Linked DNA regions of Homo sapiens: all the other regions are linked to region 1. The links come from fine-mapping of genetic effects on gene expression. A gene starts in region 1. Each other region holds a variant in brackets. All regions are shown on one strand. Distances are from middle to middle.

Region 1 (8,000 bases):
CGTAGCTGAGTTTCGGTTTTCTCTTCTGTAAAATAAAGGTGGTAATACTCGCCTCTGGGGTTAATTTGAGAATCGGTCTGTAAAACAGGAAGCACTGCACCTAGCCCAGAGTGAGCTTAGAAAGCCCGCACCCTTCACTTTCTCCCCATAAGCTCCCCTTCCTCTGTCAGCTGCCTTTCTTCCTCTTTGCCTGGATGCTCTCGCTCTCTCTACCTCCTTTCCAATCTACCCGCTCTTCTCTGGTCTCTGAGACCTCTCCAGCACCAGGCCCATCCTCAGCTCCTGGTGAGTCCTGCTTCCCTCCCCCGCAGGGTTATGGGACCCACCTGATGAACCACCTGAAGGAGTATCACATCAAGCACAACATTCTCTACTTCCTCACCTACGCCGACGAGTACGCCATCGGCTACTTCAAAAAGCAGGTGACCCGTAGCCTCGTCCCACACCGGTCCTTTGCCTGGAGGCTGGGGTAATTCTGTCCAGCCCCTCTGTGGATGGAGTAGGAGTCCCTTTGCGTCCCCTACTTCACCTGACACCTGCCAGGAGAGTCTCCATGCCTATCTTCTTTCCTCTGCTGCCATTGCCCCAGGGGAGAATGAGGGCCTGTGGGGCCAGTAGAGCAGGCCGGAGGAACTGGGGGTCAGTAGAGCATCCTGGAGGAACTAGGGGGCCAGTAAAGCAGGCCGGAGGAACTGGGGGGGGCACTAGAGCAGGCTGGAGGAACTGGGGGGCTAGTAGAGCAGGCTGGAGGAACTGGGGGGCCAGTAGAGCAAGCTGGAGGAACTGGGGGCCAAGAGCAGGCTGGAGGAACTGGGGGGCCAGTAGAGGAGGCTGGAGGAACTGGGGGGCCAGTAGAGGAGGCTAGAGGAACTGGGGGGCCAGTAGAGCAGGCTGGAGGAACTGGGGGACTCTTCGGGATGAGTCAGGAGTGGGCAGCTGACCTGGGACCTTTCCAGGGACAGTTTGAACCCTCACAGTGCCCCAGGAGGAGGTTCAGGAGCAGGAGGTGGCAAGTGGCACGTGCTACTCCTCTGGTGCTCCCAGGTGAGGGACGACAGAAGTTGGGAAATACTTATGGATGGACTGGGTCATGACCATCCACCCCCCAGGGTTTCTCCAAGGACATCAAGGTGCCCAAGAGCCGCTACCTGGGCTACATCAAGGACTACGAGGGAGCGACGCTGATGGAGTGTGAGCTGAATCCCCGCATCCCCTACACGGAGCTGTCCCACATCATCAAGAAGCAGAAAGAGGTGGTGTGCACACATGCGCATCTGTGGGATTTTTCATGAATGGGCATGCAGAGGGCGAGCACACGTGTGTAGACCTGTTCTACGTCTACATGCATATATGTGTGTGAGTGAGGAGGGGCAGGCCAGGATCTTGGCTCTTGCTCTGCTCCCTTGGGGAAGTTATGAGGGGAGGTGCTGGATTAGGTGGCGTTGCAGCTGGGTGGGTGCAGCCAGTGGCTCCGACTGTGGCCCTGGGAGGGGTTGTTGTTGGGGCTGGAGTTGGCCCCTCAGTCCCTTCCTTCCCTCAGATCATCAAGAAGCTGATTGAGCGCAAACAGGCCCAGATCCGCAAGGTCTACCCGGGGCTCAGCTGCTTCAAGGAGGGCGTGAGGCAGATCCCTGTGGAGAGCGTTCCTGGCATTCGTAAGCAGGGGTCTCAGTTGCAGGGTAGTGGGGGCACGATGCTTGGGGTGTGGACTGGCATTCTTAGAGACATTCTCCCACTTCCCACTTTGCAGGAGAGACAGGCTGGAAGCCATTGGGGAAGGAGAAGGGGTGAGTGTCAAAGGAGCCGGGTTGGGGGTGGGGCAGAGGGACTTGGAGCCTCAGACTTGGTGTCTCTCGCCCCAGGAAGGAGCTGAAGGACCCCGACCAGCTCTACACAACCCTCAAAAACCTGCTGGCCCAAATCAAGGTGGGGAGACCAGGTTTCCTTTCCAGGGCCCCTGCACCAATGGCTGTGGCCTCTTGATGCAGTGTGGGGTGGGTAGTGGTCTCGGGCTGGCGTGGGCGCAGCAGGGCTGTCCCCAGCCCGGCTCTTCTCTCCAGTCTCACCCCAGTGCCTGGCCCTTCATGGAGCCTGTGAAGAAGTCGGAGGCCCCTGACTACTACGAGGTCATCCGCTTCCCCATTGGTGAGGACCTTCCATTCCATCCCCTTCCCTCCTCTTCTGTCCCCACACCTGCTCCTGCCCTCACTGCGCCCTGCAGCCCCAGGGGGCCCACCCTGGTGGACAGCCCTGCCGTGGTCTTCAGCCTCTTAAAGCTGTGCTCCGTCTCCTGCTGCCCCAGACCTGAAGACCATGACTGAGCGGCTGCGAAGCCGCTACTACGTGACCCGGAAGCTCTTTGTGGCCGACCTGCAGCGGGTCATCGCCAACTGTCGCGAGTACAACCCCCCGGACAGCGAGTACTGCCGCTGTGCCAGCGCCCTGGAGAAGTTCTTCTACTTCAAGCTCAAGGAGGGAGGCCTCATTGACAAGTAGGCCCATCTTTGGGCCGCAGCCCTGACCTGGAATGTCTCCACCTCGGATTCTGATCTGATCCTTAGGGGGTGCCCTGGCCCCACGGACCCGACTCAGCTTGAGACACTCCAGCCAAGGGTCCTCCGGACCCGATCCTGCAGCTCTTTCTGGACCTTCAGGCACCCCCAAGCGTGCAGCTCTGTCCCAGCCTTCACTGTGTGTGAGAGGTCTCCTGGGTTGGGGCCCAGCCCCTCTAGAGTAGCTGGTGGCCAGGGATGAACCTTGCCCAGCCGTGGTGGCCCCCAGGCCTGGTCCCCAAGAGCTTTGGAGGCTTGGATTCCTGGGCCTGGCCCAGGTGGCTGTTTCCCTGAGGACCAGAACTGCTCATTTTAGCTTGAGTGATGGCTTCAGGGGTTGGAAGTTCAGCCCAAACTGAAGGGGGCCATGCCTTGTCCAGCACTGTTCTGTCAGTCTCCCCCAGGGGTGGGGGGTATGGGGACCATTCATTCCCTGGCATTAATCCCTTAGAGGGAATAATAAAGCTTTTTATTTCTCTGTGTGATTGTTTCTTTGGTGTAGTCCCAGCCTTAGCAGGCTCACCTTGGCCCCCAGGGACCTCTTGCAAACTGGAGGCTGCTCTCCCCAGCAAGCCTCAGGCCTGGTCCTGTGCTCCTGGGGTGATGGGTCCTACCTGCCTGCAGCCCCCCACCTCTCCCTCCTCCAGGCTGCTCCTGATCCAGATGCCAGGGCAGCAGGGGTCAGAACCTCCTGCCTTCACCTTAACCTGGGTGGATGTGGTTACAACTGACTGCAGAAGGGCCAGAGCGTAGAGGATCCTGTAGCACTGAAAGAGTGCTTCCCTGTTAGCACACGTGGTTCTTTTTCTTGGGGCAGGGATAGGAGATTCGTAAGTCGGCTCAGCTGGCTCCTCCCCTCAGTTTCAGTTTCCATTTCTGATTTCTGCTCTCTGCGCTGAGCACAGCGGCACCAGGCTGAGCTAAGCAGGGCCGCCTTGGGCAGGCCTACGTGGTGGTGCAGGCGAGACCCAGGCTGGGCAAGGCGCAGGTGTAGCCTGTGTTACTCCCACCCCCCCCCACCCCCACCTTTTGGCCACAGCAGGCTTCTGATGAGTTTTGAGGGTGTCCCCCCCCCCACCTCCCTCAAGTGGGGTGGAGTCCTGGGCAAAGGGAGGTCTCTGTACCGACTGCTCTGGCCAGGAGTTGGGATGAGTGGAGGGCCCAGTGGGTCTGAGTCCCCTGCCATTCCCAGAATGGAGCTGTGGCCCTACCAATGGGAGGTGATCATGCCTGCCAGGGCGCTGGCGCAGCAGCAGTACTTAACCGGAGTTTGTACTCACGGCAGTTGGCGATGACTGTTAGCACAAACGGTTCTTTTCTCTTGGTTCTTTTTCCTGGGGCGGGGATGGGAGATTCCTAAGTCGGCTCAGCTGGCTCCTTCCCTCAGTTTCAGTTTCCATCTTGGGTCTCTGAGCTGAGCAGAGTGGCACCAGGCTGAGTTAAGTGGGACTGCCCTGGGCAGACCTACCTACTAGAGCAGGTGAGTCCTGGGCTGGGCAGGGGGCAGGTGTAGCCTGTGTTACTCCCGCCTCCCCCTTTTGGGCAGAGCAGGGTCCTGATGGGTTCTGAGGGAGTCCTGCCCCACCTCCCTCAAGTGGGGTGGAGTCCTGGGCAAAGGGAGGTCTCTGTACTGACTGGTCTGGCCAGGAGTTGGGAGGGGTGGAGGAGTCGGTGGGTCTGAGTCCCCTGCCATTCCCAGAATGGAGCTTCGGTCCTACCAATGGGAGGTGATCATGCCTGCCCTGGAGGGCAAGAATATCATCATCTGGCTGCCCACGGGTGCCGGGAAGACCCGGGCGGCTGCTTATGTGGCCAAGCGGCACCTAGAGACTGTGGATGGAGCCAAGGTGGTTGTATTGGTCAACAGGGTGAGTGGTCTGTCCCTACCCCGCTCTCCCACCACCAAGCAGGGTCTTAGCTCTTCAGGCATCTCCCAGTCCCCACCAGAACTCCAAAGCTGCTGTGGCCATCGCTAAGCTCACCTGTCTTTCCACCCTGGCTCAGTACCCAGCCATGTCCTGCGGGTCACCTTACCGCCTCCCTACCCCTGGCCCCAGATTCAGCTCTCTTTTCCCAGCTCATTCTCCACCCCCAGGTGCACCTGGTGACCCAGCATGGTGAAGAGTTCAGGCGCATGCTGGATGGACGCTGGACCGTGACAACCCTGAGTGGGGACATGGGACCACGTGCTGGCTTTGGCCACCTGGCCCGGTGCCATGACCTGCTCATCTGCACAGCAGAGCTTCTGCAGATGGCACTGACCAGCCCCGAGGAGGAGGAGCACGTGGAGCTCACTGGTGAGGGCCATGGCCGGGAGGAAAAAGATACGCATCTGGGGTACCTCCTTTCGCCAACCCCAGGGCACCTCCTGGAGTCAAGGTGTTGGGAGTTTTAGTGGGAGTGAGGGGTTGCCTGTTCACAAAACCCCTGCAGGCACTCTAGTAGAAACAGGCCGGGCTATCGTGTAGGATCTTAGGCCAGTCCCTTCCCCAGCTGAGCCTCGGTTTACTAATCTGTGAAATGGAAAGAAGTCTTCCCTGCCTGGCTCCTCATCCTGGGACCAGCTGCAGGTTGTGAAGGGAAGAAGGAATTCTTACATCATTGTGGGGACTACTTGAAAGCTGATGGGAGGAAGGGCTTTGCAAACATAGGTCACAGCCTTCCCCCCTGTGCCCTCAGTCTTCTCCCTGATCGTGGTGGATGAGTGCCACCACACGCACAAGGACACCGTCTACAACGTCATCATGAGCCAGTACCTAGAACTTAAACTCCAGAGGGCACAGCCGCTACCCCAGGTGCTGGGTCTCACAGCCTCCCCAGGCACTGGCGGGGCCTCCAAACTCGATGGGGCCATCAACCACGTCCTGCAGGTCAGCCTGGCCCCTGTGGGCCTCCCACTGCCAGACCCACCAGGGACTTCCCTCCCTCCCTGCCTGCCCTGCCACTACCCCGTCCCCACCAGCCCTACCAGGCTCTCCATGGCAGGGTCTGGCCCCTTCCTCACCTAAGACCCAGCCTCCAATGGTTTCTTATGGTACAAAGAATTAACTCCCGACTCTACTGTGGTTTACAAAGTTCCACGTGATCTACCTCTCCACCTCATTTCCTGCGCCCTCCCTGTTGTAGCTCATCCTACAGTTACACTGGCCTGCCTTCTGCATGTTGAACATGTAGGGCTTGTTCCATCTCGGGGACCTTTGCATTTACCATTTCTTTTGCCTAGAATGCGCTTCCCTTTGAACTTTTCCTGCTGCCTCCTCCTTGTCATTCATTGAACAGCTTAATGCCACCTCTTGAAAGTCCTCCCTGATCTCTGCTCTCTGTCATATCATCCAGTGCTATCCTCTTCAGAGCTTGTTAATGCGCTCTGCAAGGTTTTATTGTTTTCTTTTTTTTTTTTTTTTTTGAGATGGAGTCTCACTCTGTCGCCCAGGCTGGAGGGCAGTGGCATGATTTCGGCTCCCTGCAACCTCCGCCTCCCAGGTTCAAGCGATTCTCCTGCCTCAGCCTCCCGAGTAGCTGGGATTACAGGCACCCACCACTATGCCCAGCTAATTTTTTGTATTTTTAGTAGAGACGGGGTTTCACCGTGTTGGCCATGCTGGTCTCGAACTCCTGACCTCGTGATTCACCTGCCTTGGCCTCCCATAGTGCTGGGATTACAGGCGTGAGCCACTGTGCCCAGCCTCTTTTTTTTTTTTTGAGACGGAGTCTCTGTTACCCAGGCTGGAGTGCAGTGGCACGATCTTGGCTCACTGCAACCTCCACCTCCCGGGTTCAAGTGATTCTTCTGTCTCAGCCTCCCGAGTAGCTGAGACTACAGGCGCGTGCCACCATGCCTGGCTAATTTTTGTATTTTTAGTAGAGGTGGGGTTTCACCACGTTGGCCAGGCTGTCTCAAACTCCTGACCTCAGGTGACCCGCCCGCCTTGGCCTCCCAAAGTGCTGGGATTACAGGTGTGAGCCACCATGCCTGGCCGGTTCTATTATTCTTTTACTGGTTTATTATCTGCCTCTCCAACTCCAATCTGAGTTCCTTTGTATCCCCAGTGCCTAGAACAAGACGGGCACAGAGAGGGCGAGCAATATTTGAGTAGACGAATGCCCACATTCTCCTGTCCTCAGCTGGGATCCATCCTGCCCCAAATCTTTGACCATTGTCCCCACAGACCCTCCCTTTCCAGTAAAGTCCTCTGTTGCCCCCAGCTCTGTGCCAACTTGGACACGTGGTGCATCATGTCACCCCAGAACTGCTGCCCCCAGCTGCAGGAGCACAGCCAACAGCCTTGCAAACAGTACAACCTCTGCCACAGGCGCAGCCAGGTACGCGGGGGCAGGGACACGGCGAGAGCGGGAGCCGGTGTGAAGTTAGGACACCTAGGCTTGGGCCCTGACTCTGCCCTCACTAGCTCTGTGACTTCAGGTCACTTGCTATGTATCCAAGCCTCAATTTCTCCTTTCTGTGAAATGGGGCAGATACAGCCCATGCCCACAGCCCGCTCTTTGGATTGACTCAGAAGGCACCACTGGTGTCTGTCACATCACTGTCATGCTGGGGAGTGCACTACAAACCAGAGAGCAGGGATACTTTGTGCTGAGGCTCTACTGAGCCCTCTCTAGTGTGGACACGGCCTCGTGTCTGCCATGACTGGACTGGACAAGGACTAGGTGTCAGGTCCATAACTATACCAAATGTTACACTTGGGGTCAGGTTTGAGCCCATGCTGTGGTCTGGAGGGAGGGAGTGAGTGAGCAGATAGCTGAAAGAACCCTTGGGGGGCCATAGGCAGGTGAAATGTAGTTTTATTCAGCAGCGGCTCTCTCACACTGTCCACCTTTATCTGGGCTGTCTGCTCCGGCCCTGTGGCTCCTGCTGCCCCCACGCCTGCAGCTGCTCTCCCTGGCCGGCAAGGCCAGCTCTGTCAGGGTCAGCAGCTTAACTCTTTCCCTCTGGGCACAAGCGGGTTCCTGGCTCCCCACTGCCCACCTTCAAGGCGACCGGCTGTCCCTTGCAGGGGTTAGTAGCATTATTCTCTCTCTGGGCGAGCAAGCGTGCCCTGCCGTGCCGAGCTGAACCAAGCTCCGTGAACAGCGTCAGCAGGGCAGTTTTACCTTCTACTGACAGTAGAGTCCAGTATGAACTTACACAAACAGGTTATATAGCAAGTGGAGTACGTGCCTGCCCCCCAAACTCGCTGAGTCACTCTGGCCCGGATGTCCGCCTCGGCCTATTCCTTGACCAAAGCACGTCCATGTGCCTTACACTAGGCATCACCGTGCCCAGGCCAAAGGGTAAGAGCACATCGCGGGTGAGACAGGGCAGGACTCCCCCACACCCTAGCCGGCCTCCCTCTGGAGCTCACACCACAGCTAAGACAGATGGGTGAGGCAGTCGCGGTGTGCTACACGCCGGGGTCAGCACCCCCACTGGGTGCCCATCCTCCAACG
Region 2 (8,000 bases), 170 kb before region 1:
CGGGTCAGAATAGCCGGGGGAATGTGGTTGTCGGGCGTTGCCGGGAAATCCCGGGCTCTGGAAATCCCAAACCTGGGCCTCAGTTTTCTCATCCGCAAAAAGGGAGGAGGGAAAAGTGGACCAATTGGCGACGCCTTCCAGCTCTGGCGCGTGTCATCTTTTGAGCCCCTAGATTAAAAAATAAATGTGTGGGGTGTGTGTGTGCACGCGCGTGTGTGCGCATGTGTGTCTTGGGGGCCACAGGTTTTGTGACCTCAGAGACAAAACTGTAGAGAGGGGAAGAACTGGGGATTCTAGTGAAGCCAAGATCACCCCCACCACCGCAGCACCTCCCTCCTTCTTTTACTCCGGCCATCTAAACTCAACCCTGACGGAGGAACTGGAAAGAATCTTGGCAGTCATGTGTTTCAGCCCTCCCCCTCTCCACAATTTTGCAGGTAAGAAATGGAAGTCCTGAGAGGGAAAGGGGCTTGCCCGGGGCCACCCAGGGCCACACAGTAGGCACGTGGCCTCACCAGCCGACTGTGATCCATAAACTAGCCAGCGCCCCCGTTCACCCAGCCTAGTTACTTATGAGGCTGGTTCTACCTTCAGAAAAGTCCAGGGAGGGACCGTCTTGAGTCCTCCTAACTTCGAAACTCTCTACAGGCCTTGCCACAGCAGTGAATATCCTGTCTAGAGCCTCAGTCCCCCTCTCCAAGAGGCCCCTTCCCACGAGGCCCAAGGGGTTTGGTAAGGTCGGGCTGGACGCCTTCCATCCCCTTTGCCCAGCTTCCCTCTCCTCTGGGCCTCCCCTCTGCCTGGCAGCGGGTTGGCAGCACCAGAGGAGGGGCCAGCCCAGCTGCCCACTCACAGCACAGCTGGGCCAAGACTGCATGTTCTGTTGGGGGGGGTGCATTCTCATCTGCCTCCCTCCCCAGCTGCTTCTCAGAGCTGCCCTTTTCTCTCCATTTCCACTCTCCTTTCTTGCCCCTTACTACCTCTCCCAGTTTCATTCTTTTAACTTCAGAGGAAAAAAAAAAAAAGAACTTCAAAGCTGCAGAAGCCAAAATGTCTGCGTTCTCCCCACCTTCTCTGTGTGGTCACAGTGTCTTAGTTGGCAGGATCACGAGGAAAGGAATTGAAAACTCTAAGGGGGTGCATGGAGGATGTAGGGAAGCCTTGCTTCCCAGATGCTCTGCAGGGGGCCCCAGGGAGGAGGAAGTATAGTCCCTCTCCTCTCCTTTCCCACTCTGAGCAATGGATTTGGCAGGGGAGGGTCAGACACAGAGCTAGGGGGTCAACTGGAATGAAAGCCAAGTGCCACAGCTGGAAGTGACCATAAAGATGATTTTACAAGTGGAAAAACAAAGGCCAGAGAGGGGAAGTGACTTTGCCACCGTCATGCAGCCTGTCGGTGGCTGGATACAAACCCATTGCCACATTTGGGTGGGTCCCACTTGGCACCTGTGCCCTCCAGCAGTTCCCTTCAGGCAGGTGTGGAAGTCAGTTGATGGGAGCAGATTCCTCAGGTTTTCAAGTCCTCTCACCCAGGTCTGGAGGGCAGAGGGCCACCCTTGCCATGCACTGACATCTGGGCACCTGATGGGGTGGGGGTGCCTGCTTAAGAGAGGGGGTCCTGCCTGCTCTCTTCCAGGCAGCCACCTCTCTAGACTTCTCCTCCAGGGCCTGCAGAGGCCTGTTGCTCCAGCAGGCAGCCCCACCCACCAAACATCTGTCTTGGTTGGGCCGGGCTTGGCTTTAGTGTGGGTAGTCCTAGGTCCTAAAAAGCTAGCATTGAGGTGCCAGAGTACAGAATGGGAAGGATGGGCCTAAAAGGGTGTGTGGCTGTGTTTTCAGAGCCCTCCCGTGCCTCCCACCCTGACCCTGTGCCCAGTGGCTGTGCCCTTGGTTGACCATCCCTCATTTGGTCTCTGACTGTAAGGCCCCGAATATCTGTGTCTTTCATTGCACATTTCCCCTTCTGGGTTTTTTTTTTTTTTTTTTTTTTGAGATGGAGTTTCGCTCTCGTTGCCCAGACTGGAGTGCAATGGCGCGATCTTGGCTCACAGCAACCTCCACCTCCAAGGTTCAAGCGATTCTCCTACCTCAGCCTCCCGAGTAGCTGGGATTACAGGCATGTGCCACCACTCCTGGCTAATTTTGTATTTCTAATTTTGTATTTTTAGTAGAGGCGGTGTTTCTCCATGTTGGTCAGGCTGGTCTCGAACTCCCGACCTCAGGTGATCCACCCGCCTCGGCCTCCCAAAGTGCTGGAATTACAGGCATCAGCTACCATGCCCGGCCCCCACTCTGGCTTTTATTCTCTCTGTGTCTCTCCCTTGTCTCCTTAGGTCTCCATCTGGTTCTCTGATTCTGTCTGGGTTTCTCTCCATTTCTTCAGGCCTGTTCTCCCTTTGAGATGCAGTGGGGAGGAGGAGGAGCTATGGAACTTTCCCAGGATGGGCAAAGGGCACCCAAGGGAGTAGAGGGAAGGGTGTCAGAGTTGGGTTGGGAAGAGGTGACTGTAGTCGTGGCTCCAGATAACACAACTACCCAGAAATGTCAAATTTGGGGTTTCTTTTTGCTTTCAGTCCCCTTGTTTGTCCCCTTGTGTGGGTGATTTCCCACCACAAAGTGCCCTGGTGATTTTGGGGAACCAGGCTGTGGAGGAGAAAACTGAGGCCACGGGATGGGGGTTCAGGAAGATCAGAAACTGTCAAGGGTCTGACTGAGCTGCGGTCCGAGGCTGGCCTCCTTGCCCCTAACTGCTCTTCACCCCCAAATCCAAGTCACAGTATTAGATGGGGAGTGAGGAAGGATTTTAGAAATCTTACAGAAATATATTCCCCAGGCTAGGTGCAGTGGCTCACGCCTGTAATCCCAGCACTCTGGGAGGCTGAGGTGGGAGGATCACTTGAGGCCAGGAGTTTGAGACCAGTCTGACCAACATGGTGAAACCTCGTGTCTACTAAAAATACAAAACAATTAGCTGGGCGTGGTGTCACGCACCTGTAATCCCAGCTACTCGGGAGGCTGAGGCACAAGAATCTCTTGAACACAGGAGGCGGAGGTTGCAGTGAGCCGAGATCATACCACTGCACTCCAGCCTGGGCAACAGAGTCAGACTCTGTCTCAAAAAAAAAGAAAAGAAAAAAAAAAAAGCAATATATTCTCCAAAAGAAGACCTCCTATATTTTATTAGGAATAATAATAGTCTGCAGCCTAGGCTTCAGTTGGCACACTATATTCGTATCCTGAACTACATCAAGGCACATTTGTGTACAGACATGGTTGTGCTCTTCAACTCAACGGATCCTTTCAATAACCTTGAAGGCAGTCAGGGCCAGAATCACACCCTTTGATTAGTCCATGAAAGAAACCTGCCCAAAGCTGTCTGGCCAGTAAGTGCACAGATGGCACCAGGATCCAAGTTGCCGGGCCTTGTGGGCAGGGTCTCAGTATAACCTTTCTAAGCTTCCCCAAGCCCAGCACACACCGGCGGAGTGAAGAGGCCTCCCTGGGCTGGGCTAGCCCACCATTTTTCTGCGGTGCGGAGCATGGCATCTCCATTCTCGCCCAGCCTACACCCCTGCTCTATTGAATGGGACAGTGTGCTCTGTGCACACTTACATGAAGGTGGGTTTGAGTTTATGGATTAAGAGAATTATCCCAAAGGGCCGGGCATGGTGGCTCACGCCTGTAGTCCCAGCACTTTGGGAGGCTGAGGCGGGTGCATCACCTGAGGTCAGGAGTTCGAGATCAGCCTGGCCAATATGGTGAAACCCCGTCTCTACTAAAAATCCAAAAATTAGCTGGGCGTGGTGGTGCACACCTGTAGTCCCAGCTACTCAGTACGCTGAGGCAGGATAATCACTTGAACCAGGGAGGTGGAGGTTGCAGTTAGCTGAGATCACGCCGTTGCACTCCAGCCTGGGCAACAAAAGCGAAACTCCGTCACAAAAAGAAAAAAAAAAAAAGAGGGAGAGAGAAAGAATTATCCCAGGTCCCCTTTCTGCCTTGCCCTTGACGATCAGGTCTGCCCATGCCCCTACCCTGGGGAGAACAGATTGAGGTCACCTTGACTTGACCTTCCTTGGGGGGTGGAGGGAGGTGGTACAGAGATGCCTTTGTTTCCTGTGCTCCAAGTCCCTTCTTCAAGGAGAGTTCCTGTTACATGGGAGCCAGAGGGGAGGTGGGGTAGGGGTGAAGGGCCTTCCCAAGAAAGCTGGAGGCTTTCTAGGAAGTATCTTTTCACCCTGCGGCAAAGGGGAGAAGCCCTGGAGCACTTAAACATCCTGTTTCACCCCCACCTTGCCTCTGCTTGGACAGCCTACCTGCACTCCAGCCCCCACCGGAGAAGGCTTCTAGAAGTGGGGCCATGGGCCCATGCTCAGAGTATACCCCACCTCTGAGGCCAGGCCCTGGTACCTCCCTATAGAAATGCCACCCCCATTCTTGTCCAAGAAGACAGATCAGGACCTAGGGAGGGTGTGTGTTTATATGCACAGGGTGAGGACTTCTGTGCAAATCTGGGGGAAGGGAAGGAGCTGCCGGAGCTTGGGTGAAGCCCGTTCCTGCCGCTGTCCCCTATCCACCACTCTTCAGGGAAGTCACTTTACAGTGAAGTCACCAAGAGAACACAAGGCCATCCTGCCTGAGGCATAGTGACTGTCCTCTGTTTCTGGGAATAGCATGAGGGGAAGGGTGTGGGGCTGGACAGGGTGGGTAGGAGAGGAGTCCTGCTTCCTCTGCCCAGCTGCCCAGCCTGCCTGCCCTGGGGGAGAGGCTTGTAGGCCGGTTTC[T/C]TTCTGGACGAAGAGAAGAGGATGCAGAGTCTGTGCCAGGTTCACATTTCCCAGCCAGTCAGGTGGGCAGGAGGAGCCCACCCTTTGCAGCCCCCTCATTGCAGGGCCAGGCCCAGGAGCCTGGAGAGAGGAGAGAGGGCACACAGAGCCAGGCAGCTGAGTGGAATTGGCACTGTCCTGGGCAGCCCTGGGTCAAGCCTGGCTTCTCATCCTCATCCATGATGACTATCAGGCCGCTCTTCCCGCTGAGCTAGTTTCTCCTCCTTCCAGCCCAACAAGAAATCTTTTGTGCCTTGGCCAGCCCAGTACCCAACCTCAAGCCCTCTGGGGGTTGTGTGCGAGGGGGCTGAGCATCTTCCACGACACCTCCCAGTACTCTGCCACTTTCCTTTGTTATGACTGGAGGGGGTTCCTTTCTGTAGAATCTGTTTCTCATTGTTTCTTCGTTTCTTAAGTCTCAGATCTACCCACATCTTCCTTGCTCCAAGCCTCAAAAAAGTGCTTCGGCCAGGCTTTTCCCCTTACGCTGGCCTCTCAACTCCAAGCACTAGCCCCTTTCATTCCATCTACCTGGAATGTCATTCCTCCCTTGGCCACCTGGTGAAATTGGCCTCATCTTTCCTAGGGTTAGTGTGGCCTAGAGGAAAACACAAAGGCTTTGGAGTCATAAGGTCCTGGTGCAGACCCTGGCTCTGCTGTAGGATCTTGAGTGAGTGAGTCTGCCTCTTGGATCTAAGCATCCTCACTTGTAAAGAAATAGCAAGACCCACTGCTGGGATTTCTGTTAAGACCCAGTCACAGGCCCGGTGCGGTGGCTCAAGCCTGTAATCCTAGCACTTTGGGAGGCTGAGGCAGGTGGATCACCTGAGGTCAGGAGTTTGAGGCCAGCCTGACCAAGCCAGCACAGACTCAGCATGGTGAAACCTTGTCTCTATTAAAAATAAAAAAATTAGCCAGGTGTGGTGGCAGATGCCTGTAATCCCAGCTATTTGGGAGGCTGAGGCAGGAGAATCACTTGAACCTGGGAGGCAGAGGTGGCAGTGAGATGAGATCACACCACTGCACTCCAGCCTGGGTGACAGAGCGAGACTCTGTCTAAAAAAAAAAGACTCAGTCACAGTGGCTGGTGCATTGTAGGTGCTCAGAGGCCTTGGCCAGTAGAGCTGGGTGTTTTTTCCTCTGCCCTTCAATCCCATCTGTATTACAGGCCCCTTCTTATGGCCCTAACACATTGCCTAAAGGGCTATGTCCCACTGCTTGTCCACAATAGAGTCTTCATAAATATCTGTTGGATTAATGAAGGCCCCTAAACCAGCACAGAACTTCCGGAGCTTTGACGGTTCAGGGCAGCCCCCTGTTCACTGACCACCCCCACCATGGTTCCCAGAAGACTCTCCCCCTGCTGCCCTGGCCTCTGCCTGCTCTGGTCCCACTGAGCTGCTTTTCTACACACAGTGGCAGCAGCAGCCTCATCTTTGCCTGGTGCTGGGCTGAATTTTGAGTTCTTAACCTGCCTGGCAAGCCAGCAAGATACTGGCTGCAGTGGCACTCTGCTCCCTCCTCTGCGTCCGCCCCACCCTCCCTGGATAATGCTGCATCCCCCAGGACTCTGGGTGGAGAGAGCCCAGTGACCCTGTCCCAAGAGGCGGGGTCGGGGGATCCTTGGCCTTTCCAGAGAGCCCACCCTTTAGCCTTTAGCTCTGGCTGGAAGGGAGCCCAGATTGGTGAGGCACACAGGAGCAAGACTGAGAGCAGGTGTGTGAGACTCTCCAGGTGGCGAGTCCTCCATGCACCTGCACATCCATCGCTCCCGTCCTCTCCCCTCCCCTCCATGTGACAAAGCACCAGCTCTCTCCTGGCCAGCACACTGGCTGGGATTAGGCTGAGGGAAAGAAAGAGAGAAAATGCTTTTTTATCAAGTGCCAGGCACAGTGCTTAGTTGCCTTCACAAATGCTCTCCTTTTTCCTTTAAAAAAACTGTCTATTTTACTAATGTTTTAATAGGGAGCATCTGCACATGATATATGTATTTTGTAACAAAAGATTCAAAAGGGTATGTGGTGAAAAGTTAGTCTCTGCCCTTTCCTGTCCCCCAGGGCCCTTCTGGAGGGGCAACAACAGTTGCTGGGGTCTTTTGTGCATTTAAATGCACGGAAGGATTCTGTGGATTTGAAACATATATTACACTCTACCCCCTAACTATGATTTACACGTGATGGGAAACTGAGATCCTCAGAGACATTAAGTACCTAGACCAAAGTCACACAGCTAGTTTTTTTTTGTTTTTGTTTTTGTTTTTTTTTTTTGAGACGGAATCTCGCTCTGTCGCCCAGGCTGGAGTGCAGTGGCGCGATCTCTGCTCACTGCAACCTCAGCCTCCCGGGTTCACGCCATTCTCCTGGCTCAGCCTCCGGAGTAGCTGGGACTACAGGCGCCCGCCACCACGCCCGGCTAATTTTTGGTATTTTTAGTAGAGTCAGGGTTTCACCGTGTTAGCCAGGATGGTCTCGATCGCCTGACCTCCTGACCCACCCGCCTCGGCCTCCCAAAGTGCTGGGATTACAGGTGTGAGCCACCGCGCCCGGCCAACAGCTAGTAAGTTAGCAGAGCTGGGATTTAGAACCATATCTAACTTTTCACCACCAATGCTCTGGCAGAAGTAAGCAGGGGCACTGACAGAGCCCTCCGAAACTGCAGAGCCCATTCCAAACCGAGGCCACGCCATTCTGAGGCCTTGGAGATCTGGCATCCCCGCCTTCTTTTCTGTTGAGCATCCTATACCTTCTCCACATGGCTCCAGGGTCCTGTACTGACCTATCCCCCTATGGAAGGATTCATCCCCACAGGGAAAAAGGGACATTCCCACAGTGCCCTTTCTTAGCAAATGTGTGGCCGGTGGTTGCCCAGGGTCAGCCTGACTCCTGGGATGCAGGAGGGAAGCCATAATAACGAAGGCCTCTGGTTTCTGGCCAGAGGGGATCATGGTTGTGGCTTCAGTGACGTTCCCAGAAAATGGCCTCATGATCTCTGGGGCAGGAGTGAGGGAGGATGTGAAGCAGGGAAGCTGCCCCCTCTGAAAGCCATGTGTTCATCTATGAGAGAGAGAGGGGAGGAGGCTGTAGGATGGGAGCAGGGGCATGCATGGACAAGGGCTGTGGACTAGACCCCCAGGCTCTTCCCCCAAGCCTCTCTCCTGGGTCAGGCTGGTGCACTAAG
Region 3 (8,000 bases), 80 kb before region 1:
GGTGACATGGTGAAACCCCGTCTCTACTAAAAATACAAAAAATTAGCTGGGTGTGGTGATGCGTGCCTGTAATCCCAGCTACTCGGGAGGCTGAGGCAGGAGAATTGCTTGAATCTGGGAGGCGGAGGTTGCAGTGAGCTAAGATCGTGCCATTGCACTCCAGCCTGGGCAACAAGAATAGAACTCTGCCAAAAAAACAAAAAAAAAGAAGTTTGTAATTTTCCTTGGGATAAAGCCAGCAAGCTAACACAGATGTTCACCTAATAACCATGTAAAGTTAAGATAAACTATGTGACTGGCTGGGTGTGGTGGCTCACACCTGTAATCCCAGCACTTTGGGAGGCCAAGGAGGGTAGATCACTTGAGGTCAAGAGTTTGAGACCAGCCTGGCCAACATGGTGAAACCCCATCTCTACTGAAAATACAAAAATTAGCTGGGCGTGGTGGCACACACCTGTAATCCCAGCTGCTTGGGAGGCTGGGGCAGCAGAATCGCTTGAACCTGGGAAGTGGAGGTTGCAGTGAGCTGAGATTGTGCCACTGCACTCCAGCCTGGGCAACAGAGCAAGACTGTGTCTCAAAAAAAAAAAAAAAAAAAAAAGATAAACTATATGTGACAAGTCCTCTTACTTGAGGACTCGTTATTGTTTATCTTGAAAACGTGTATGTAATGGGTTGTATGCGCTTGGCTATACAAAAAAGTAAGATTTCCTCCCTTCTTTGCAAGCTCTTAGCAGATCACCTGTCATGTACATCACATTGTGGTTGAATGCTTATTCAATAATAAAATTGTTTTCTTTCTCAACTACCTTGAGGGAGAGGATGGGGTTTTTTTTGTTGTTGTTTTTGTTTTGTTTGTTTTTGAGACGGAGTTTCGCTCATTGCCCAGGCTGGAGTACAATGGCGCAATCTCAGCTCACTGCAACCTCCGCCTCCCAAGTTCAAGTGATTCTTCTGCCTCAGCCTCCCAAGTAGCTGGGATTACAGGCATGTGCCACCACATCTGGCTAATTTTGTATTTTTAGTAGAGATGGGGTTTCACCATGTTGGTCAGGCTGGTGTCAAACTCCTGACCTCAGATGATCCACCCGCCTCAGCCTCCCAAAGTGTTGGGAATACAGGCGTGAGCCACCGCGCCCAGCTGAGTTGGGGTTTTAAGAGTTCTTAAGCTTGCCCCTCTCCCAGCTCAAGTGGCTTAATGGCGTTCTTTCCCACACACACCTTTCTGTTCCTTCACCTGCGCAAGTTTGAGGACCATGCTAGTCTGGTCCTAACTGCCCCAACTGCCAGCCTGGGCTAGCACCCGACATGAAGTCCTGTAGGCGACCTGCCCCTTTAAGAGCACCCCCCTCCTTCAGCTCCTCCCTCAGGCCTGGTGGCCGGATTTCCCAGTTGGGGCCCAGCCTTTTAAAGCCATCGCTCCTTCTTTCTGGCCGGATGTGTGCTGAGACCCAGAGTCACCCAGGGGTCTCCGTCACGTGCCAGGAGTAGGCAGAAGTGGGCTGTGACAGGTGCATGTGGGCATGGACCCCACAGCCTGGGGCTCAGGAGGGACAAGGAGCTGGGACAGGGTGGATCCCGAGAGAAAGCAAAGCCACTCGGGAGTGGGCAAGAGATATCGTTACGCAGCTGCTGTGTGCCCGACCGACCCTGTCCGAAACCCTTCCTGTACCTTCCCTTCCTCTTCCTTCTTTTCTCCCTTTTTTTTCTTTTCTTTTTTTTTTTGACAGGGTCTCACTCTGTTGCCCAAGCTGGGGTGCAGTGGCACGATCTTGGCTCACTGTAGCCTTGACATCCTGGGCTCAAGGGATCCTCCCATCTCAGCCTCCCAAGTAGCTGCGACTATGGGTGTGACACCACGCTGGGCTAGTTTTTCAATTTTTTGTAGAGATGGAGTCTCCCTATGTTGCTCAGGCCGGTTGCAAACTCCTGGGCTCAAGTGATTCTCCTGCCTCAGCCTCCCAAAGTGCTGGGATTACAGATGATAGCCACCTCACCCGGCCCACCCCTACCTTCTGAAAGAGGCATTCTTATTCTTATTCCCATTTTGCAGATCAGGAAACAGAGCTCAGTGCAGCCCACTAAATTGCTCAGGGCCCTACAGCTAACAAGCGGCAGAGGCAGGATCTGCACTCAGGTCAGTGGGACTCCAAAGCTTTGATAGTCTCTCCTTTGCATCACCTGCCCCACAGGGTCCTGCCTTCTTCCCAATTTCATTTTTCCTCGGTTTTCCTGTATGCAGTAGAGCGTGGGAGGAGAAATGGATAATTGCTGCATGCCCCCATATCTCGGTTCCTTCCTCTTCCCAGGAGCTGCTTGGAGATGCTGCTGTGGCCACTGCTGCTGCTGCTGCTGCTGCTGCCAACATTGGCCCTGCTCAGGCAGCAGCGGTCCCAGGATGCCAGGCTGTCCTGGCTTGCTGGCCTCCAGCACCGAGTGGCATGGGGGGCCCTGGTCTGGGCAGCCACCTGGCAGCGGCGGAGGCTGGAGCAGAGCACGCTCCATGTGCACCAGAGCCAGCAGCAGGCCCTGAGGTGGTGTCTACAGGGAGCCCAGCGCCCCCACTGTTCCCTCAGAAGGAGCACAGGTGTGTTTCCCAGGGTCTGGGGAGGTGACCCAAAGAGAAAGAAACCCCACAGGACCGTCAGATTCCAGAGCCTGATGGCCCCCTTACCTCCTCCACTGCCAACGGAGTGGCCTGACCCAGAGACCCAGGACTGGCTTTCTTGTCCAAGATGAATTTCCCATGCTGGGTCCTTACATCCTCTCTACCCCAGGCCTATTCTCGGTTCCTCCCTCAAGGGTCTCACCAGTCTTGCCTGAAACTCTTGGGAAACTGGCTTCCTGAGGCGTTTCTGTTGTCATTGGGGCTATAGACATAAGCACCTTCCGGAATCATCTCCCTCTGACCAAGGCCAGCCAGACCCAGCAGGAAGACAGTGGAGAGCAGCCACTGCCCCCGACCTCAAACCAGGACCTTGGGGAGGCCTCTCTGCAGGTAATCTAGGATGGCCAGAGCCCAGTCCTGGCCACAGCCCAGTCCCACCAGAGACCTCTGACTTGCAGCCAAACCCTCCAGTCATGGTGGGCAAAGAACCCCCAAATGGGGGCTCTGGGTCTGGCTCTGACACCAGACCAACATTCTCTCTTTCCTCCTCCAGGCCACCTTGCTGGGTCTGGCAGCCCTAAACAAGGCCTACCCAGAAGTGCTGGCTCAGGGACGCACTGCCCGTGTGACGCTTACATCCCCTTGGCCCCGACCCCTGCCTTGGCCTGGGAATACCCTGGGCCAGGTGGGCACCCCTGGAACCAAGGACCCTAGGGCCCTGCTGCTGGACGCACTGAGGTCCCCAGGGCTGAGGGCACTGGAGGCTGGGACGGCTGTCGAACTTCTGGATGTTTTCTTGGGCCTGGAGACTGATGGTGAAGAGCTAGCTGGGGCGATAGCTGCCGGGAACCCTGGAGCGCCTCTCCGTGAACGGGCAGCTGAGCTCCGGGAGGCCCTAGAGCAGGGGCCACGGGGACTGGCCCTTCGGCTCTGGCCAAAGCTGCAGGTGGTGGTGACTCTGGATGCAGGAGGCCAGGCCGAGGCTGTGGCTGCCCTCGGGGCCTTGTGGTGCCAAGGACTAGCCTTCTTCTCTCCTGCTTATGCTGCCTCGGGAGGTCAGTGGGACTCAAGGGCAGTGAGGTGGGGGCAACGGTCAGTGGTCACATGACAAGCAGCCATGCATTGGGCCCTACATAATCATCTCATTTAATCCTCCCCAACAAGCTGCATGCTAGGGCCAGCAGCCTCCTTTTACAAGTGAAGAAATTCAGGCTCTCTAGGTTAAGAGTCTTGTAGCTGGGTGCAGTGGCTCACGCCTGTAATCCCAGCACTTTGGGAGGCCAAGGTGGATGGATCGTTGAGGTCAGGAGTTCCAGACCAGCCTGGCCAACATGGCGAAACCCCATCTCTACTAAAAATACAAAAACTAGCGGAGTATGGTGGTGCACGCCTATAATCCCAGCTACCTGGGAGGCTGAGGCGGGAGGATTGCTTAAACCTTGGAGGCAGAAATTATAGTGAGCTGAGATCGCGCCATTGCACTCCAGCCTGGGTGACAGAGCAAGACCCTGTCTCAAAAAAAAAAAAAAAAAAAAAAGGCCGGGGCAGTGGCTCACGGGTGTAATCCCAGCACTTTGGGAGAGGCTGAGGTGGGTGGATCACCTGAAGTTAGGAGTTTAAGACCA[G/A]CCTGGCCAATGTGGTGAAACCCTGTCTCTACTAAAAATACAAAAATTAGCCAGGTGTGGTGGCAGGCGCCTGTAATCTCAGCTACTCAGGAGGCTCAGGCAGGAGAATCACTTGAACCCAGGAATCACTGAATCACTGAGCCGAGATCGCACCACTGCACTCCAGCCTAGGTGACAGAGCGAGACTCTGTCTCAAAAAAAAAAAGAGTCTTGCACAAATTCATGTGGCACCAGGATTCACTCCCAAGTCTGCCCCCTCCAGGACCACAGCACTCTGCCTCTTTCCAGTGAGGGCCTAAGAGGCAGCCCGCTGAGGCTGGGGGAGCCAGGAAGGATGTGGTGGAAGGGCAGCAGGAGGATCAGGTGCTCAGAGGATCAGGCCTGGGATCCAGGAGGGGCTATTGCCTGGCAGAAAGCGATGGCACCAGCAGACGCTGAGGAGGCTGCTTTGCTTTCACAGGGGTGCTGGGCCTAAACCTACAGCCAGAGCAGCCCCATGGGCTCTACCTTCTGCCCCCTGGGGCCCCCTTTATCGAGCTGCTCCCAGTCAAGGAAGGCACCCAGGAGGAAGCTGCCTCCACCCTCCTTTTGGCCGAGGCCCAGCAGGGCAAGGAGTATGAGCTGGTGCTGACGGACCGCGCCAGCCTCACCAGGTGATCAGCTGCACAGCCCCTGCTACCTGGGGCCCTATGGGACCGTGCTGGGGGCCTGGGGCATGAGCTCAGAAGACCTTGGGCCCGACCTCACTCCCACTTGCACCCCATCAGGTGCCGCCTGGGTGATGTGGTGCGAGTGGTTGGTGCCTACAATCAGTGTCCAGTCGTCAGGTTCATCTGCAGGTAGGTGACCCCGGGGAGCTGAAGGGCCATCCTTGTGTCCTGGGCTCCACTGCCTCTCCCTTCCTCCTCTTCAGGCTGGACCAGACCCTGAGTGTGCGAGGGGAAGATATTGGTGAAGACCTGTTCTCTGAGGCCCTGGGCCGGGCAGTGGGGCAGTGGGCGGGGGCCAAGCTGCTGGACCATGGCTGTGTGGAGAGCAGCATTCTGGGTGAGCCTCCCCACCGGCTCCTGCCTACCATCCTTGAGCTACCCTTCAACTCCTACCTCCCCTGCCAGGGGACTGCTAGGAAAGAGATAAGCCTCCTTTACTACTCCTACAAAAGTCCTTCTCTGCATCTAACTCTCATCCATCCTGCTGCAGTCTCTACCCATTTTCTTTCCTGATCTGTCTCCTATTTAGGATCAAGCTCTAGGTTCCTCTCCATTTACCCCACTCCCCACCAAGAAACTCTTTTTTCCCTATGAATCTCAGAGTGGGGAAGAACAGATAGGGCAGAGGACACTAGACTTGGCAGCTGCCCATTCACCGGAAGTATGTGTGCACATGGGGTCTATTCACAGATTCCTCTGCGGGCTCTGCTCCCCACTACGAGGTGTTTGTGGCGCTGAGGGGGCTGAGGAATCTGTCAGAGGAAAATCGAGACAAGGTAAAGGAGACGAGGACAGGGTCTGACTGTAGACCCCTTCACTCTGCACACTCCCAGGGTGCCATGGAGATCAGGGCTGATGGGAAGGAGAGGGGTGGCGGAGGAGAAGCTCCCTGGGGCTCTGGGAGGGGAGGGCTAAGTCCCACAGACACACACCTGTCCACACAAAACTTCTAAACACATGTAGCCTGGGCACAGCCACACACGCCTCGTGTGCACACTCACAGTCACACACCAGCTCACTCAGGCTGTTCTGTTCCCAGCTGGACCACTGCCTTCAGGAAGCCTCTCCCCGCTACAAGTCCCTGCGGTTCTGGGGCAGCGTGGGCCCTGCCAGAGTCCACCTGGTGGGGCAGGGAGCCTTCCGAGCACTCCGGGCAGCCCTCGCTGCCTGCCCCTCCTCCCCCTTCCCCCCTGCGATGCCCCGGGTCCTTCGGCACAGGCACCTGGCCCAGTGTCTGCAGGAGAGGGTGGTGTCCTGAGTCAAGTCCTGCCCCACCGCCCAGCTCCCCCCAGAGGCCACCTCGCCCCTCCCTCTGGGACCTCTCCGGATGGGGAGTCCTTGGCCAGGGTCTCTGACTCTGTGTCACCTGACATTTGCCCATGAGAGCCGCTGGGCCTTAGAGAGGCCTTGGCCCAGCTGACCGGTTCTGAAGTATGGGCCTCCGGGGTTAGCAGATGCCAGCAGTGCCTGCCCGTGTCCCCATGTCCCGGCATGAAGGACACTGCTAGAGAGTTACCATGCACACCGATGGTTTCCTGTATCACAGCCCAAAGAGGTTCTCTGGTGGCCACAGCTGTGTGCTCAGTCAGTGCACTGGGCAAGCTAGAAGTGTTGGGGGGTTAATGTCCCCAGGAGCAGCAACCCTGAGTCAATAAGGAGCAGGACCTCAGCTTCATTGTCCTTGAGCAGGACAATTCTGAAGTGTATTCTACATAAACTCTCAGAGGATGCCCAGCAGGATGGAGTCCCAGTTGCCCGCAGCAGTAACCCACTCATTCATGTACTTCCTGCGGGGGCTCTCCCTTCCCTCTCTTCCCCACTCCCCCGCCTTGGGCTTCCTGGGATGGCTCCCAAATAAACCTCTTGCACCCAGATTCTTGCCTCAGGGTCTGCTTTGGGGAAACGGGAGTGGACCCCGGCCCAGCCATTCCCCCACTGAGCTCCAGGACTTTCCCCCAACATTCTGCTCTGGGCCTGGCAAGGCTGCATGCGCACACAGGAGCCTTGGAGGACTCGTGGCACATCCTAGGCCAGCACCCACAAACCACTTCTGCGGTGGGGAAGGGAGAGCTATTACTTCACATCATAAGGCATCGCCGCAGGAAGCAACTCCGGAGACCATCTGGGTTCACTGTTCCATACTAATGAGGAAACGCAGCCTCCACAAGGTTGTAGAGGCTAAAATAAAAGAAAGAAAGAAACTGGGCTAGATTTTGGCTTCCTTCCCTCCCACTGCCTGGACTGGAGTTTTAAGGTTTTCCATCTTGGAGGCTGATGGGAGGGGCAGACCTCAGCTCCTCCTCAGTAGAGGCAGCACTGGATCCAGATGCCTCTGAATAGCTTCTCCATTCCATGTCCCACACCCAGGTCCTGGCTGCATACCCACCCGGCCCCCACCTCCGCCTGTCACTCCATCCTGTTAAAATCTTCCTGTGAAGCTGGGCACAGTGGCATGGGCCTATAGTCCCAGCTACTCAAGAGGCTGCGGTGGAAGGATGGTTCATGCCCAGGAGTTCAAGACCAGCCTGGGCAACACAGCGAGACCATCTCGGGAAAAAAAAACAAAAAAAAAAACCTCCCATGGTGGCCCCCATCGCCCACAGGATTAAGACCAATCAATTTGGCCTATTAGACCCTTTGACCTTGGCCCTCACCTACATGTGCAGCTACCTCTCTCCCCTTGCTTGAAAGAAGGCCTGGACTAAGGACCACGCCTCACCTCCCATCTAAGGGTTGTTAAGCACTGTCAACTCCAGGAGTTTGCTCAAGTTGTCCCTTCTATGTAATGCCCTCTATCCCGCTGCCCCTGATGTAAACTAGCTTTCATGCAAGGCCTTTGAGGACCCCCTACCAGGCCCACCCCAGGCAGAGTGACTGGCTCAGCTTTGCTCATGTGGGCAGTAGTCCTCTCCTTCACTGAACTATCATTATGCCTGAACTGCCTCCCACCTGGAATATGAGTTCCTTGGAAACTGGGCTAGATCCTGTGCACAATTGCCCCCATGCCCAGTGCCTGGTGTGGCATGCAGCAGGAGCTCAATAAAGAGGTTGTAGGCC
Region 4 (8,000 bases), 65 kb before region 1:
AGAGGGAGGGGAGGAGGCAGGAGGGCGCATGGGGCGCCCCGGCCCCTCCGACAGCGCGCCCCCTCCGGCCCGGCCGCGCTGAAAGCTCCCCAGCGCCGCGCCTTGAACCCACGCCCCGGGGCCATGCCGGTCATGAAGGGGTTGCTGGCCCCGCAAAACACCTTCCTGGACACCATCGCCACCCGTTTTGACGGAACGCGTGAGTGGGACGGAGGTCGGGGCTTGAGGTTCGAGCTGGGGGGCAAGTATCCTCGGGGCCGTCTCGGATCTCCTGGACATGGTGAGACCCGAGGCGAGGGGAGAGAATGGAGGTGCGGGTCTAGGAACTCCCAAAGCCGCGGTGCAGGAACAGGGCGGGGAGTGCCCTGCGAGGGGAGGAGGGGAAAGGGCCGAGAGCACGGGGGCCAAGGTTAGGGGGTGTGACTCGAGGCAGAAGAGGCTCTTTGTGCGGCAGAGCGGAGGAGGGTCCTTCGGAGCCGCCCACTCTCGGGCAGAGCTGTGCTGGGGGCGTGTATGGGGGTATCCGAGACACAGAAGTGGGGCAAAGTGGCCGGGCATTCTGGGGTCTACTCACAGACTCCAGCTCCCACTACCTCCAGAAAAAAAGGAGAAAAGATCAGACTTCAGCAGGACCTAGTTTGGATTGAGGTCGCGCGCCCCCAAATCGTGGGGCGTCAGTGTCTAAGGTGGGTGAGGCAGGAGGAGGGGAGCGGTCTGTGCGACGGTGGGAACTCCCAGCTCGCCCAACGTAGCTTGGGTTTCAGGTTCAGCACCTTGGACAGCCACATCACTCCTCCCCCGCCTCTTCTCCCGCCATTCCCTCTTCCCACTCTGGAACCCAGAGATTCCCCGCCCTCACCTCCCCCAACCCCGCCATTCCCTCGGGAACCCTGGCCGGGATCTGGATGGTGGGGGAGCGGTACCCGAGGGCGGAAACTGAGCCGCCGGGCCCTACCCTCTTCCCCACCACCTTGTTTCCATAGCGCCCATCACCGGGGCAACAGGCCCTGGGATGGAAGAAGGAGGCTGTGCCCAGAGCCCAGTGCCTCCCAGGCACCTTCAGTGTCCCCATCAGCCTCCCTGCCCCCAGACAGTCATCCCTCCTAGAGCACCAGGACTGGTTGTGTCACAGGCCCCATCTCTTAGCTGAGTCTCTGTCCCTGGATGGCCCACAGGAGTCCCCCTGGCCTCCCACCCATTGGAGCTGGAGGGAGACAGCTCGGGTTCTGCTGCTGGGGGTTGCTGGAGCTATACGCTCAATGCCCTCTCCCATTAGACTTTGAGCAGTGGGGCAGATCCCCTGAAAGCAGCTACAAGAATGCTAAAAAGTGGACCTTCTCTGGAAGGCAGGGAAGGAAGACAGCACTCATCACTGTCTGCCCCCACACTAAGGAGATCTGTGAGTTTGGATAATCTCTGCCTTTTGGTTTCCTATCAATAAATGGGTGTGGTGTCATCAGAATCTCTGCCCTGCTTACTCTGTAATAGGAAGAAAGCCAAGTGAATGTGGGGAAAAAATTTCACCTTCTCAGAGTAGCACTTACCATGTGCTAGGACTTGTTCTCCCCAAGTTAACTCATGTAACTCTCACAACGACCATGTGAGGAAGGCCTATTATGCCCTACTTTGCAAATAAGGAAAGCTTAGGCACAGAAGAGGTCATCAACTTGCCCAAGGTCACACAGTTAGTAAGTGGCAGTGGAGGGTTGCAGGAGCCCAGGCTCTTACTCACCATGCTATACTGCCTTCTACAGTGACAGCTCACCAGTTGGAAGGCAGGGGGATGGATGGCATGACCTCCTGGGGTCCTTCTCCAACTCCCCGTTAGACCCTGCTTAAGTCCTGTCTCAAGTCCTTGTCTCTTTGCTCCAACTTCTCCAATTCTCAATTCAGAATATCCCAAAGTGGGGTCAGGAGCAACATGGAAACCTGGGAAGCTTCTGGCTCTGTGACTTCTAACCCCAACTTAGAGGAAGTGCTGCCCACCTGGAAGCTAGCTCGCCTCCCAGCCTTGACCTGACCTTGACCTCTTCTTCCCACAGACAGCAACTTCCTGCTGGCCAACGCACAGGGCACACGGGGCTTTCCCATCGTCTACTGCTCCGACGGCTTCTGCGAGCTCACAGGCTACGGTCGCACCGAGGTCATGCAGAAGACCTGCAGCTGCCGTTTCCTCTACGGCCCAGAGACCAGTGAGCCAGCCCTGCAGCGTCTGCACAAAGCCCTGGAGGGCCACCAGGAGCACCGGGCTGAAATCTGCTTCTACCGCAAGGATGGTGAGGGGGCTCACCCCACCCTGCAGCTCTGCCTAGACCCCTAGCCTTATCCAGAGGGCACTGGGCACAGTAGGAGTCTGAGTGCTTGTCCCCACACTGCCAAAAGCTGACTGTGACGGAGCGTATCCCTGACCTCTCTGGTCCTGGGTTCCCCCATTTGAAAGATGAAGGAATCGGCTGACAGAATCTCTGAGGTTCCTTTTGGTTCTTGCTTTGCCAAGCTCTTAACTATGTCTAGGAGGATGAGAGGGATGAGGAGAAAGGCATGCCATGGGGCTGCCCATGCTCCTCCCTTCCCTCTCTCCATGCCTACAGGCTCAGCCTTTTGGTGCCTCCTGGACATGATGCCCATCAAGAATGAGATGGGGGAGGTCGTGCTGTTCCTCTTTTCCTTCAAGGATATCACTCAGAGTGGAAGCCCAGGACTTGGCCCCCAAGGAGGCCGCGGGGACAGTAATCACGGTAACAGCAAGTCCGGACGGGCAGTGTGAATGGTCAGAAGCCTTCGCCTAACCAGCCGCAAGGGATGTGCCCCAACGTATCTCTGCACCTTTCTTCCCAACAGAAAACTCCCTTGGTAGAAGGGGAGCCACCTGGAAATTTCGGTCTGCCAGAAGACGGAGCCGTACTGTCCTACACCGACTGACCGGCCACTTTGGCCGCCGGGGCCAGGGAGGCATGAAGGCCAATAATGTGAGTCCCACCCCCAACCCAACATCTCCCAAGTCCTCCAGCCTTGATTCTGAGGCACCCCTGCCACTGTCTCCCCACTTCCCTGTCTGTCTGGTGTCCCTCCTTGGCTTGCTCCTCTGCCCACCCATTTCCCATATACTACTCTATATGGTATATGCTCCATCCTATATCCTCCCCCAACATCCTTCTATCCCTATCTCCCTCATTCCCTTAGGTGATTGACATTACTTTGCTCCGATGATGTCACATTGCTCTAGCAGCAATGACCTCACCTGCCCGGGGGTGATAGGGTTATACCATGGGTGGTGAAATTGCAAGCTGCTATAGTTCTAGGGAGAAAGCCCTCATTGCAGGCCTGGCATCTAGACCTGTGTACCACCTCCTAGGATCCTGACCAAGCCAGGGGATTGAGTCCCCAACCCTCTGTTAGGGATACAGGGAATGCGGTGGGCTATGCCAGCCTCTGCTCCCTGCTGGGATATACCCAGCCCCCACTGGGCCCCCAGAACCCAAGAGGAACTTAAGGGAGAAGTTAGGTACCCCTCAAGCTAGGGCATGTGCCGATTTGTCATAGTCTTCTTCTCAAGTAGGATGAGTGTTGGGCCAGGCACAGTGGCTCATGCCTGTAATCCCAGCACTTTGGGAGGCCAAGGCAG[G/A]AGGATTGCTTGAGGCCAGGAGTTCTAGACCAGCCTGGGCAACATAGTGAGACCCCTTTTCTAAAAAAAAAAAAAAAAATTAAAAATTATCTGGAGGCCAGGCGCAGTGGCTGATGCCTGTAATCCCAGCACTTTGGGAGGCTGAGGCAGGCGGATCACCTGAGGTCGGGAGTTCAAGACCAGCCTGACCAACATGGAGAAACCCCATCTCTACTAAAAATACAAAGTTAGATGGGTATGGTGGCACATGCCTGTAATCCCAGCTACTTGGAAGGCTGAAGCAGAAGAATCACTTGAACCCGGGAGGTGGAGGTTGCGGTGAGCCGAGATTGCACCATTGCACTCCAGCCTGGGCAACAAGAGTGAAACTCTCAAAAAAAAAAAATTATCTGGCTATGGTGGTGCATGCCTGTGGTCCCAGCTACTCTGGAGCCTGAGGCAGGAGGATAGCTTGAGCCCAGGAGTTTAAGGCTGCAGTGAGTTATGATGGTGCCACTGCACTCCAGCCTGGGCACAGAGTGAGACTGTCTCTAAACTTAAAAATGTAAAAATCAAGTTGGGTGAATGTCAAGCCTCATAAATACCCTTGACAAGACATGATTGGTTCAAACAGGGGCCTGGGGCCGGGCACAGTGGCTCACACCTGTAATCCTAGCACTTTGGGAGGCTGAGGTGGGTGGATCACCTGAGGTCAGGAGTTCAAGACCAGCCTGGCCAACATGGCGAAACCCCATCTCTACTAAAAATACAAAAATTAGTCAGGTGTGGTGGCATGTTCCCGTAGTCCCAGCTGTTTGGGAGGCTGTGGCAGGAGAATCACTTGAACCCAGGAGGTGGAGGTTGCAGTGAGCCAAGATCATGCCCTTGCACTCCAGCCTGGGTAAAGAGCAAGACCCTATCTCAAAAAAAAAAAAAAAAAAAAAAAAAAAAAAAAGGAGGAGGGCCTGGGAAATACTTGGCAGGAGAAGAAAATGTCAGGTGTCAGCCTCTGCGCCCCTCTCCTGGCCTTCTATCTCCTTTCATTCATGGTCAAAAGTGCCCTTGCAGTGCCCACCTGCTAACTTTCCCCATCCCCTGCCTTTCCCACCCCCCATCTTGGCTCCTCTTTCCCTCAAGTGTCCCCAACCGCCACCCCTCTCCCCTTAGAACGTGTTTGAGCCAAAGCCATCAGTGCCCGAGTACAAGGTGGCCTCCGTGGGGGGGTCTCGCTGCCTCCTCCTCCACTACAGCGTCTCCAAGGCCATCTGGGACGGCCTTATCCTCCTTGCCACCTTCTACGTTGCGGTCACCGTCCCCTACAATGTCTGTTTCTCGGGTGACGATGACACCCCCATCACTTCGCGACACACCCTTGTCAGCGACATCGCCGTGGAAATGCTCTTCATCCTAGGTCAGACCTTCTGCCTCACCCACCCTGGTGGGTCGGCTGGGGGGATCCACTTGGCCAAGCCTCACCCACTCCTGGGGCCCACATGACCCAGACATTCAGAGCCCCTTCCTTTCTGCATCTTTAAGTCCCAATGGCCCATGTGTCCTGCTCCCCGCAGCCTTCAGCCTTGTAACCTATCCTCCCTAAGGACCAGCCAGAAGCCCAATCTATCTCTCCATGCCTGCCTCCTCCTCCAGTCTCCAAAGCTTGTTCCCAGCTTTGTCGGTTTCTTGACCCCTTTGCCAAGGCCCCCCAGTAATAGCCTCTTGCACCCCCAGATATCATCCTGAACTTCCGCACCACCTATGTGTCCCAGTCCGGCCAGGTAATCTCTGCTCCTCGTTCCATTGGCCTCCACTACCTGGCCACCTGGTTCTTCATCGACCTTATTGCTGCTCTGCCCTTTGACCTGCTTTACATCTTCAACATCACCGTGGTGAGTGACCTCCATCCCGCCATCCAGTCCAACCTCCCAACTTCAGCACAGCATCTTCCAGGAAGGGACTGACCCCAAACCCAGATATGCCCCTTCCCATCAATCCATCTGCAGATATTTATCAGGCACCTGCTCTGGGCATAGCCCTGTGCTAGGTACTGGGAGGATCCCGAGGGTCTGTGATCCTGGGGAGCTCAGCTCACAATCTTTGAGGGAAGCTGAGACAAATGAAAAGCTAACTATGGCTACCAAGGCGGCATTGGTCTGATGCCAAATGAGTGGTACTTTTCACATTTTTATTTAACAAACAACTGATGAGCATTTAGCTGTCTGCAAAGCACTGTGTGGGGCATGGCCACTGTGGGGAAAGGGAACAAGGATTCAGCCTCTAAACAGCCAAACTGGTGAGGGGGCAGGAATGCCACAGAGCACATCAGGGACAGAAGAGGTGAATGGGGGTGGAAGATGGGGCCCGGGTATGCTACAGAGGGGCTGGGCTGACCTTGGAGTTCCAGGCTGGAACATGAGTGTGTGTAAAAATGATCTGAAGTCTGGCCAGCACCTGGGAAGCAAAAGCGCCCTTGTTGGGCAGAGGCTGGAGGGGTCTGGGAAGGTTTCCTGAGGGAGGCGGAGATGGTATAGCTAGACCTTAAAGGGTGAGTAGGATTTAGCTGGAAGGAGATGAGGACAGCAAGCATTTGGGGGAGCATAGTAAACCTAGACAAGAAGGTAGAGGCTGTGGGGTGAATTCAGAGGCAAAGAATGCCAGGACCTGAGTCCTCACAGATCCCTGGGGACACTCTGGAGGTGCCCTGAGTGGTCATCTGTGGCCCCAGCCAGCAGATAGTAGGTCTTCTCAAGTCCAGGGTGGGGCAGTGCTACCCCGTGTCCCCAGGCCCCCTTGGGTGTGGGGCGGGCAAGTGGGGAGCAGTTTCCTTGTGTGCTCTCTCCCTGCACTCAGCTATAGCAGGAAACCACCTACACGCAGCCGAATTTAACTAGCCGCCAACGGGCTGTGGGCCTCCTCTCCTGGCTGTGCACACGTGTGTGCGTGCTCCCACACACGTGCATGTGTGTACGTCTGCCTCGAGGCTCTGACCATTCTGAGCAGATCTCCCTACCCCTCCCCAGGGGTGCGCCCACCCCTCTATGCCCACCAGGCACCATCAGCTGGGGAGTGGGACACTACAGAGAGCCCCCTGCCCCTCCTCTCAGGTCCCTTTGGGAGCACGTTACAGTTCCCTATGTTCTTTCACACTCATCATCACATGGGAGCCCCACGGGAACCCTTCAGGGCAGAGGCTTATCCTTTTTCAGAGGTAGGTACAGAGGCTCAGAGAGGTTCAGTGACTTGCTGAAGGTCACATACCTAGCAGGGGCAGGCAGGATATTAGAACCAGGTCTCTCCACCCTGGGCAACAGGTGAAACCCCTTCTCTACTAAAACACAAAAAATTAGCCGGGTGTGCTGGCACGTACCTGTAGTCCCAGCTACTCGGGAGGATGAGGTACAAGAATTGCTTGAGTCCCAGAGGTGGAGGTTGCAGTGAGCCAAGATAGCTCCACTGCACTCCAGCTTGGCCGGGCGCAGTGGATCACCCTGTAATCCCAGCACTTTGGGAGGCCCAGGCGGGCGGATCACGAGGTCAGGAGATCAAGACCATCCTGGCTAACATGGTGAAATCCTGTCTCTACTAAAAATACAAAAAAAATTAGCCAGGCGTGGTGGCAGGTGCCTGTAGTCCCAGTTACTTGGGAGGCTGAGGCAGGAGAATGGTCTGAACCCGGGAGGCAGAGCTTTCAGTGAGCCGAGATTGCGCCACTGCACTCCAGCCTGGGCGACAGGGACTCTGTCTCAAAAAAAAAAAAAAAAAAAAAAAAAAAAAGAACCAGATCGCTAAACTTCCAGTCTAGTATTTTTTCCAACATACCACCCTGCTTCCCAGGTAACCAGGGCCCCTGAGTGGATGGTCTGGTGAGATGAGGAATACCACTGGGGGCCAGAGAGAGGTAGAGCAGAGACAGAAGATGAGCAGGCACTGGCAGAGCTGCAGACTTGAAGGAGCCAGGCCTGGATATTCTAGTCCAAGGAGAATGACAGGAGTATCCCCAAGAGAGTGGCCCAAGGGCAGCTGACTGAGGGAAGCCCTGAAGAACTCAAGCTTGCAGTCAAGGGCTCTGGGAGCTGGGGGTAGGCATTAAACCCTGGCGAGGGTCCATATGGAGGAATCAGAGCCACCTCCTTTCCAGTTCCTTCACCTAAAATTAGAGAAAAATTGCACGAGGTGGTCCAGGAGCAGTGTAGGGCCAGGGCTGTGGGGAATGTTCCTGGAGGCCCAGGAAGGGGCAATGAGGGGCTTTCATACCAAGTTCCCCAGGCACTGCCCCAGAGCCTCCAGTCCTAGCTGCCAGGCTGCTCCCACCCAGAAGATAAGCCCTGCCCATCTCCAAGATTGAAGGGCTAATCAATATTGATAACCACAATGCAGATGGTACTTGGGGTAATATTAG

Evidence for each region.
Region 2: its variant is fine-mapped to the expression of DHX58 in whole blood (TOPMed, PIP 0.98).
Region 3: its variant is fine-mapped to the expression of DHX58 in whole blood (INTERVAL, PIP above 0.99). The same link has a PIP of 0.9 or more in lung.
Region 4: its variant is fine-mapped to the expression of DHX58 in fibroblasts (GTEx, PIP above 0.99).

Annotation. Positions count from the first base shown.
Region 1 is chr17:42,108,145-42,116,144 of GRCh38, reverse strand. It overlaps DHX58 (DExH-box helicase 58), which reads left to right and starts at 3,431. Exons shown (of 14, transcript NM_024119.3): 1 at 3,431-3,540; 2 at 3,940-4,032; 3 at 4,252-4,420; 4 at 4,648-4,849; 5 at 5,232-5,422; 6 at 6,759-6,875. The coding sequence starts at 4,253. KAT2A (lysine acetyltransferase 2A) reads left to right here. Exons shown (of 18, transcript NM_021078.3): 12 at 312-422; 13 at 1,110-1,253; 14 at 1,541-1,655; 15 at 1,751-1,787; 16 at 1,863-1,926; 17 at 2,061-2,145; 18 at 2,303-3,034. The coding sequence ends at 2,496. RefSeq lists enhancers at 1-105, 1-364, 3,064-3,583, 3,824-3,923, 7,721-8,000.
Region 2 is chr17:42,280,224-42,288,223 of GRCh38, reverse strand. It overlaps a transcript of STAT5B not described here and a transcript of STAT5A not described here. Among named protein-coding and RNA genes, the nearest start is that of STAT5A, 4.3 kb to the left of the region's middle. RefSeq lists silencers at 1-52, 73-152 and enhancers at 169-669, 953-1,012. The variant T/C (reference allele first, on the strand shown) is at 4,785.
Region 3 is chr17:42,187,904-42,195,903 of GRCh38, reverse strand. It overlaps GHDC (GH3 domain containing), which reads left to right and starts at 1,410. Exons shown (of 10, transcript NM_032484.5): 1 at 1,410-1,511; 2 at 2,054-2,137; 3 at 2,310-2,587; 4 at 2,877-2,998; 5 at 3,162-3,663; 6 at 4,694-4,886; 7 at 5,001-5,072; 8 at 5,147-5,280; 9 at 5,634-5,719; 10 at 5,983-6,817. The coding sequence starts at 2,323. The coding sequence ends at 6,201. RefSeq lists enhancers at 1,268-1,497, 2,392-2,922. The variant G/A (reference allele first, on the strand shown) is at 4,234.
Region 4 is chr17:42,173,069-42,181,068 of GRCh38, reverse strand. KCNH4 (potassium voltage-gated channel subfamily H member 4) reads left to right here. Exons shown (of 17, transcript NM_012285.3): 1 at 1-199; 2 at 2,043-2,276; 3 at 2,592-2,738; 4 at 2,842-2,969; 5 at 4,772-5,015; 6 at 5,333-5,490. The coding sequence starts at 124. Among named protein-coding and RNA genes, the nearest start is that of KCNH4, 4.1 kb to the left of the region's middle. RefSeq lists a silencer at 1-17 and enhancers at 967-1,534, 2,185-2,686. The variant G/A (reference allele first, on the strand shown) is at 3,626.